Linked DNA regions of Homo sapiens. The protein of the gene in region 1 purifies or fractionates together with the protein of each later gene. This does not show direct contact. Each region holds a gene or a part of one and is shown on either strand. Other genes may lie near its edges. The genes, in order: BDH1 and PGM3.

Region 1 (3,820 bases):
TCTGTCCTGGACACCTGGTGCCCCGCACTGCAGGAGCAGGTGGGGAGATAGGGAGACACTGAAGCGCCCACCCTGAGGGAATGTCCAGGCTAGAAGAGCAGGTGCCCACGGCAGGTGACACTGGGAGTCGGGGAGATGCACAGAGGGACCCCTGGGAATGTGAGTGTTCGGGGATCAGAGGAGGGGGAGAGGCAGCTGTCAGAGAGGTTGGATACAGTTCCCCAGAGGCTAAACAACAGAAAGTTTGGAGGAGAGGGCAGTACCAGTAGCCAACAGGGTCAAAAGCTACAGAAAGTTCCAGTAGCATAAGGACTAAAATATCCTTCCAGTTCAGCCAGTGGAGGGCCTTGTGGGAGGAGCTCTGTCTGCAACCTCGGGGTGCCATTCATGTAGAATACAGCAGTGGGGGATGGAGCTCCCTGGAGCCGGGCCGCCCAGCAGCATCTGGAGAAGCGAATCTATGAAGTTTACCTTTGAGCTCCCTGACAGCCCAGGCAGAAAGGGTGTGCGTCATTCAGGCCTCTGCTTTCCCTCAGAATGGGGTGGGGCAGCTCTCAGGAGCAGCTACTTCAGTGGCTGGGGAAGGAGGCGGAAAAGGCAGGAGTGACCAGATCCCATGCGGGGAGCTCTGCTGAGCCTGTATCAGCCAGATGGATGTGCTGTCTGTCACAGCAGCTGCCTCAGAGGCTGCGTGTGTGGCTGTCGGTGATGCCGCTCCTCTGCCTGTCTCTGATGTGCCACCTCATCAGCCCACTGTCGCTCCCATCCTCCCAACAGGCCATTCACAGGCCTCTCTGTTCTCTGTTCTCGCTGAACATCTGTTTAATAATTAACAGGCAGAGCCAGCCCATTAAGAAAAGGCAGGATGGGTCCCGCTGGGGTGATTACCGGCTCAGAACCTGCAGCCTGCTTCGCCCTTCCCTGGCGGTAAATTCTCCTCCCTCCCACCTTCCCTGGGCAGCTGCTATATTTTCCTTCATAAACTACTGGGCAGGAAAACAGCTGCATCGGCACCATAAAGCCACTTGATTATAGCGTGGGTTTTGTGGTGATCTAAAATGCCCGTGGAAAGGCGTCATCACCGGAGACCCAAGCAGAGAACGCACCAGGCCGGCTTGCTCAGGCTGGCGGTCCTCGTCCCCTGCCCCCCTGACTCTGGGGCAGAATCACTTCCATTGTCTGTACTGGACTGGCCAGGCAGCCTAACCTACAAGGCAGGGTGGGCCCCGGCCCACACAGAGGGGAGGCACTCACCCCCTGCCCGGGGATCTGGGCTCCAACCCCAGCACCAGCCTGACGCGCAGACCTTTCCCTGCTGCTTTTCCCACGCCGGGCATTCCGGAGGGCTGGATGAACCTCTCACCATCAACTTCCTTAACCGATACTGCATTTTTTTTTTTTGGAAAAGGATTTGAAGACTTTTAGGTCTGAAGAAAACAGTACATCCGTCAGATATGCAGTGGCGTGTCCCCCATCTCCTGCTCTCGCTTTCTTCCCGTCTCCCTCTCCTCCCTCTCCCTGCTTCCCCTCCACACTCTGCCACTCTGCCATGTCTTGGCCTTGCCTTGGCAATTCCCCCTCAGGCAATGCCGGCTGTGAACTCCAGGGAGCACCCTCCCAGAGCGTTCCGACCCGCAGTGGCCGCCACCGACCCACACCCCATGCAGGACATGTCAGAAGGGTCCTCTTCCCCTTCTCCACCGGGGGGGCACATTTGGTTGGCGAGTTTGACGCCCTGCAGCCTGGCTCTGTGGAACAGTTGCTGCCAAAGCCCGGGGAGCCAGCCACGGGGGCGAGATGAAGGAGATTGTCTGGTGAGAGCCACAGAGCCATCTGCCACCGGCCCCGACCCCCGCAGGACGCTGAGGGACAGGACATCTGGAGCCTGGGACCAGCCCTCCCTGTCCCCACCCCAGGGGACACCGAGCCAGTGGGCCCGAGAGCAGGCCGTGGGCATGGCCTGATCTTGGCACATCACTTACCAGTCAGTCAGTCAACATTAATTAATTAATTAATTAATTTTTTTGAGACAGAGTCTTACTCTGCCGCCCAGGCTGGAGTGCAATGGTGCGATCTCGGCTCACTGAAACCTCCACATCCCGGGTTCAAGTGATTCTCCTGTCTCAGCCTCCCGAGGAGCTGGGATTACAGGCGCCTGCCACCATGCCCAGCTAATTTTTTTTTTTTTTTTAGTAAAGAAGGGGTTTCACAAGGTTGGCCAGGCTGGTCTCAAACTCCTGACCTCAGGTGATCCACCTGCCTTGGACTCCCAAAGTGCTGGGATTATAGGCCTGAGCCACCACGCCTGACCTGGGCTTCACTTATTAGAAATGTGATCTTGGGCTTGCACCTGCCCCCTGTGTGGGTCTCAGCTTGCCCATCTGTGAAGTGGGAGAGTGCTCTGAGCCGTCCAGCACTCATGCCTGGATCAGACCACTACAAGAGCATGGGAAGAATTTCAACACAAGCTGCTCGCAGGCTGACAGGCAGCAGAACATATGTGGAGGAGTAAGGGAGAAGCTTGGAAAAGGCCTGGCCTACCATGCTGTGGGATGGAGACCACAGAGCAGGAAGTGACTGATGGGGGGATCCACCTGAGGAGGGGATGGAGACCATAGAGCAGGAAGTGACTGATGGGGGGTGCCTGAGCGGGGGATGGAGACCATAGAGCAGGAAGTGACTGATTGGGGGGTCGGCCTGAGGGGGGATGGAGACCATAGAGCAGGAAGTGACTGAGGGGGGGATGGAGACCATAGAGCAGGAAGTGACTGATGGGGCGGGGAGGTCAGCCTGAGGGGGGATGGAGACCATAGAGCAGGAAGTGACTGATGAGGGGGGTCGGCCTGAGGAGGGGATGGAGACCATAGAGCAGGAAGTGACTGATGGGGGGGGTCGGCCTGAGGAGGGGATGGAGTCCATAGAGCAGGAAGTGACTGATGGGGGGGGGTCGGCCTGAGGGGGGATGGAGTCCATAGAGCAGGAAGTGACTGATGGGGGGGGTCAGCCTGAGGGGGGATGGAGACCATAGAGCAGGAAGTGACTGATGGGGGGGGTCGGCCTGAGGGGGGATGGAGACCATAGAGCAGGAAGTGACTGATTGGGGGGGTCAGCCTGAGGGGGAGATGGAGACCATAGAGCAGGAAGTGACTGATCGGGGGGGTCGGCCTGAGGGGGGGATGGAGACCATAGAGCAGGAAGTGACTGATCGGGGGGGTCAGCCTGAGGGGGAGATGGAGACCATAGAGCAGGAAGTGACTGATCGGGGAGGTCGGCCTGAGGGGGGGATGGAGTCCATAGAGCAGGAAGTGACTGATGGGGGGGGTCGGCCTGAGGGGGGATGGAGACCATAGAGCAGGAAGTGACTGATGGGGGGGGGTCGGCCTGAGGGGAGATGGAGACCATAGAGCAGGAAGTGACTGATTGGGGGGGGTCAGCCTGAGGGGGAGATGGAGACCATAGAGCAGGAAGTGACTGATTGGGGGGGTCAGCCTGAGGGGGAGATGGAGACCATAGAGCAGGAAGTGACTGATGGGGGGCGGTCGGCCTGAGGGGGGATGGAGACCATAGAGCAGGAAGTGACTGATTGGGGGGGGTCAGCCTGATGAGGAGATGGAGACCATAGAGCAGGAAGTGACTGATGGGGGGGGTCAGCCTGAGGGGGAGATGGAGACCATAGAGCAGGAAGTGACTGATTGGGGGGGTCAGCCTGAGGGGGAGATGGAGACCATAGAGCAGGAAGTGACTGATTGGGGGGGGTCAGCCTGAGGGGGAGATGGAGACCATAGAGCAGGAAGTGACTGATGGGGGGGGTCAGCCTGAG
Region 2 (3,820 bases), on another chromosome or scaffold:
TATAGTTCTTTGGGATTTCAACTTCATGAGAGTCTGGTCTTCTACTGGGTTCTGCATCTTAGATCAGCATGGGCTTTTTTTGCTCTGAAAACCGTAGCTCAATTTCTAGTTTAGAGGAATAACTTCAGAACAAAACTGGCTTCCGAACTAGCTTAGATCTTGGAGTTCTTGCCTTCGGGTATGTTTTGGCCTGATAATTCTGTCACTTTTCAGCACTGTAGTTCTTTTTAAAAGGAGGTTTTTGTCTTTTATCTAGCATGTTGGTTGTTTCCAGGAGGATGATTCATCTGAATTATGTAGTTTGCAATGTTACTGGAAACAGAACTCAATTATTACTTGTCTGTATTGCTTTATATTTACATTGTTACCTGTTTATATGTAATGATTGGTTTTTTGGCTTCTTATAGTCATTTATATTTCTTTTTAAGATCATTTTTATGTTTTCTAAGATGTCTGAGATGACACAAAAGGATTTGTCACCCTGAAATTCCTACACATGAATGCATTTAAACTTTTTTCTCTTTGTTAAGAAATGCGGTGAATTGCTTTTTGTATTTCTATGACAGATTATGGCTTGTTAACAACACCCCAGCTGCACTACATGGTGTATTGTCGAAACACGGGTGGCCGATATGGAAAGGCAACTATAGAAGGTTACTACCAGAAACTCTCTAAGGCTTTTGTGGAACTCACCAAACAGGTGAAAAGTTTATTGAACATGGTTAAAGTTAAACAAATGAATAAAGTAACATGGTCTACTGAACAAATTATCTTGTTTGTCATGCCTCCTCTTTCCTTTTCCAAAGATGCTGCATATCTCCTTTTTTGTTTTTCTCTAGGGCTACACAAGGTTCTGGTCTATGTATCCTGCTAACTTACATTGGCGTTTACTTGGCAAATTATGTAGTACATTCTGAGATACTTTGGGGAAGCAAACATGGTGGGGGTCTTGACGATGGTATCATAAGTATTCATTCAGATGAATTTGATCTTAGTTAATGTAGGTGCTGTTGGCTTAATACCTGAGGCATGTACTATTGAGATTTTCTTCTAGGTATATTGGCTTGTTAAATGTAGAGAGATTTGAGAAGTATAATTCGTTTGATCAACAAATATTGAGTATATGTCCTTACCAGGCACAATTAACTAAAAGCCCTTGCTCTCATAGAACTTATAATTTGGGGTGAGGATAGCTGGGAGAGGAGACAATTAGAAAAAAAACAAATCTGCCTGATGATGATGTCACATACTATAAAAAGAATGACATGTCATTACTGCCCATTTGTCTGTGTGCTTATTCTTGCATTTGAATGGCTCCCTTGTAATATTACTTTTAAGAGACCCTGTTAATTGAGACTAAATTCTAATAAAGCTCTATGCTATAAGTTGTTCAATCAGCAAAACTATTCTGTTGTTCCAGGTGTTTTTAAATTTTACTTTAGTGTTTTATAATTTTAAAAATTGAAAAATGAACACAATTATAATTGATAAAATTTAAAAATTAAAATGAGTTAACTAAATATTTACATATGCACATATGTATATATGCTTTATATTTCACATTTATTTTTATAACTTGAAATTTTTCTTCCATGTGTCTTTTTCCTTTGTAGGCTTCTTGCAGTGGAGATGAATACAGATCACTTAAGGTTGACTGTGCAAATGGCATAGGGGCCCTGAAGCTAAGGGAAATGGAACACTACTTCTCACAGGGCCTGTCAGTTCAGCTGTTTAATGATGGGTCCAAGGGCAAACTCAATCATTTATGTGGAGCTGACTTTGTGAAAAGTCATCAGAAACCTCCACAGGGTATGTCGTACTAGCACTGCAAAAATTTGTTTTTAATGCTCTTTGAAGCCAATCTCACTTATAAACTAAGGTGGTAAAGTGAGTTAAGAATCTTGCAGCTATTCCTGGCTCTGCCACATTTAGACATTGAGAAGTCTTCCCACTCTCAGAGCCATTGAAACATGGTCTGCTCTCTCTGCCTGTAAATCACACCATTCCTCATAGTCTACAGGAAATCAGGTGGGGAAAGCAAAGTCAGGAAATGGCATTCTAGAGCAGTGGTTCTCAAACTGGCATGTGTCAGAATCACTTTGAGGGCTTGTTAGCACACAGATTCCTGGGCTCCACTTCTGAGTTTCTGGAGGTCTGGCATAGGATTTGCATATGATAGAAATTTGCATTTCTATCAAGTTTGCAGGCTTTGTTCCCAGTGCTTGTCTGGGGATCCCTTTTTGAGAATCACAGATCTACAGGGGAGCATAGTAAGTATTATTAGATACCTTATCTGAATTAAATACACTATGGAAAGCAAATGTAACTCTGCTTATACAGTTGTTAGCAATCAGTGTTTTCCACTCAGTGCAGAATAGGAGGAAGACTTTTCTTCAGATTTTAGTTGTAGTAAGAGGTGTTCTGGATTTATCTGCATTATAGACCCTAAATTATTTGCTTAGGCCAAACCTGACTTGCAGATATGTTTTGTTTGGCTGGCTGCATTTGTGTGTTTGTCTGTGTGCCACTGTTTAAAAATTCCGTGACTTCTCTTATATATTGGAATCTCTAGCATCTCTTTACCAAAATCAGAAAATGTTCACACATGGCATTAGTCCACTACAGTCAGATAGATGCTGCTCCCCTAAAATAGGACATGCATTCTGGAACTCTACAGACTTCATCCAGTTGCCTCATTCATTCATGTTATTATGCTTTACTTAGTAAGCATTTAAAATGTCAGTGTAGTCAACCAATTTGAGCTCCTTTTCATTGAATTGCTTGTTTTGACATTTACTTGACAGTTCAGTTCTGCCACTTATTTATCCATTTCTTAAATACTGAGCTCTTACTCTCTATGCTCTAGGCTTTGGGACTACAGTATGAACAAAACCATAGTCCTTGCTTTCCTGAAGCTTGCATCATGTCCTTTCATCAATCTTATGATCCCATTCCTGACAAAAGCCTTTTACTTCTTAGTTGTCTCATGTTGAATTTGTCACTCTGCTGCTGTCATGGCTAAGGAATAGCCAAATTTTCTAATAAATTTGATGTGACAATTGCTGAGATTTCAGCAACTTTATGTAAATTTCACAGGCCAGTTATCTCTCAAAGTTATAATTCTTTGCTCTTAATTATCAGTGTTTCTTTTTATTGGTGGTATGAACAAATAAAAATCATTTCTGTTAGAATTAAAGCACATACATCATCTAGTGCTGATTATTTTTTCTATGTAAAGGAGATCACGGTCCTAGGTAAATTACATTCAGAAATACATGTAGCTTTCAAAAAACCTTTATGGGACACCTGTCTAGCCAAACCAACCTGCTTATAAAGTGGAATTTTATGGTAGTATTATAGCAAATATCAGCATAGATTTTGAATGCTCCTTTTTTCACTTTGCAGTGAAAGAATTTGACCTGTAAAAACCACTAATAAACTATGTACTATTTAAAGATTATACACTATTTAAGATTAAGACATTGATTTTTAGGTGGATAATTTTAAGAGAAAATTCTAAAACTCTTTATAATAAATTCTTAGACTGAAATGCATGTTAAATTATCCTGTGTGCTAGGAATGGAAATTAAGTCCAATGAAAGATGCTGTTCTTTTGATGGAGATGCAGACAGAATTGTTTATTACTACCATGATGCAGATGGCCACTTTCATCTCATAGATGGAGACAAGATAGCAACGTTAATTAGCAGTTTCCTTAAAGAGCTCCTGGTGGAGGTATGGTGGGGGGATTGGCTACCCTCTAAAACAAGACTTAGTAGTGAAATAGTTCCATATTTTACAATCATTTGTCAGAAGGGCA

What was found.
Region 2: the proteins of BDH1 (region 1) and PGM3 purify together in Homo sapiens (affinity purification with mass spectrometry, with the first as the bait; one large-scale study listed by BioGRID). This does not show direct contact.

The regions. Positions count from the first base shown.
Region 1 is NC_000003.12:197,517,870-197,521,689, reverse strand, and holds part of BDH1 (D-beta-hydroxybutyrate dehydrogenase, mitochondrial precursor), read left to right. Parts: intron 1-3,820.
Region 2 is NC_000006.12:83,179,725-83,183,544, reverse strand, and holds part of PGM3 (phosphoacetylglucosamine mutase), read left to right. Parts: intron 1-566; coding exon 567-700; intron 701-1,613; coding exon 1,614-1,809; intron 1,810-3,577; coding exon 3,578-3,735; intron 3,736-3,820. UniProt on the Homo sapiens protein: Catalyzes the conversion of GlcNAc-6-P into GlcNAc-1-P during the synthesis of uridine diphosphate/UDP-GlcNAc, a sugar nucleotide critical to multiple glycosylation pathways including protein N- and O-glycosylation.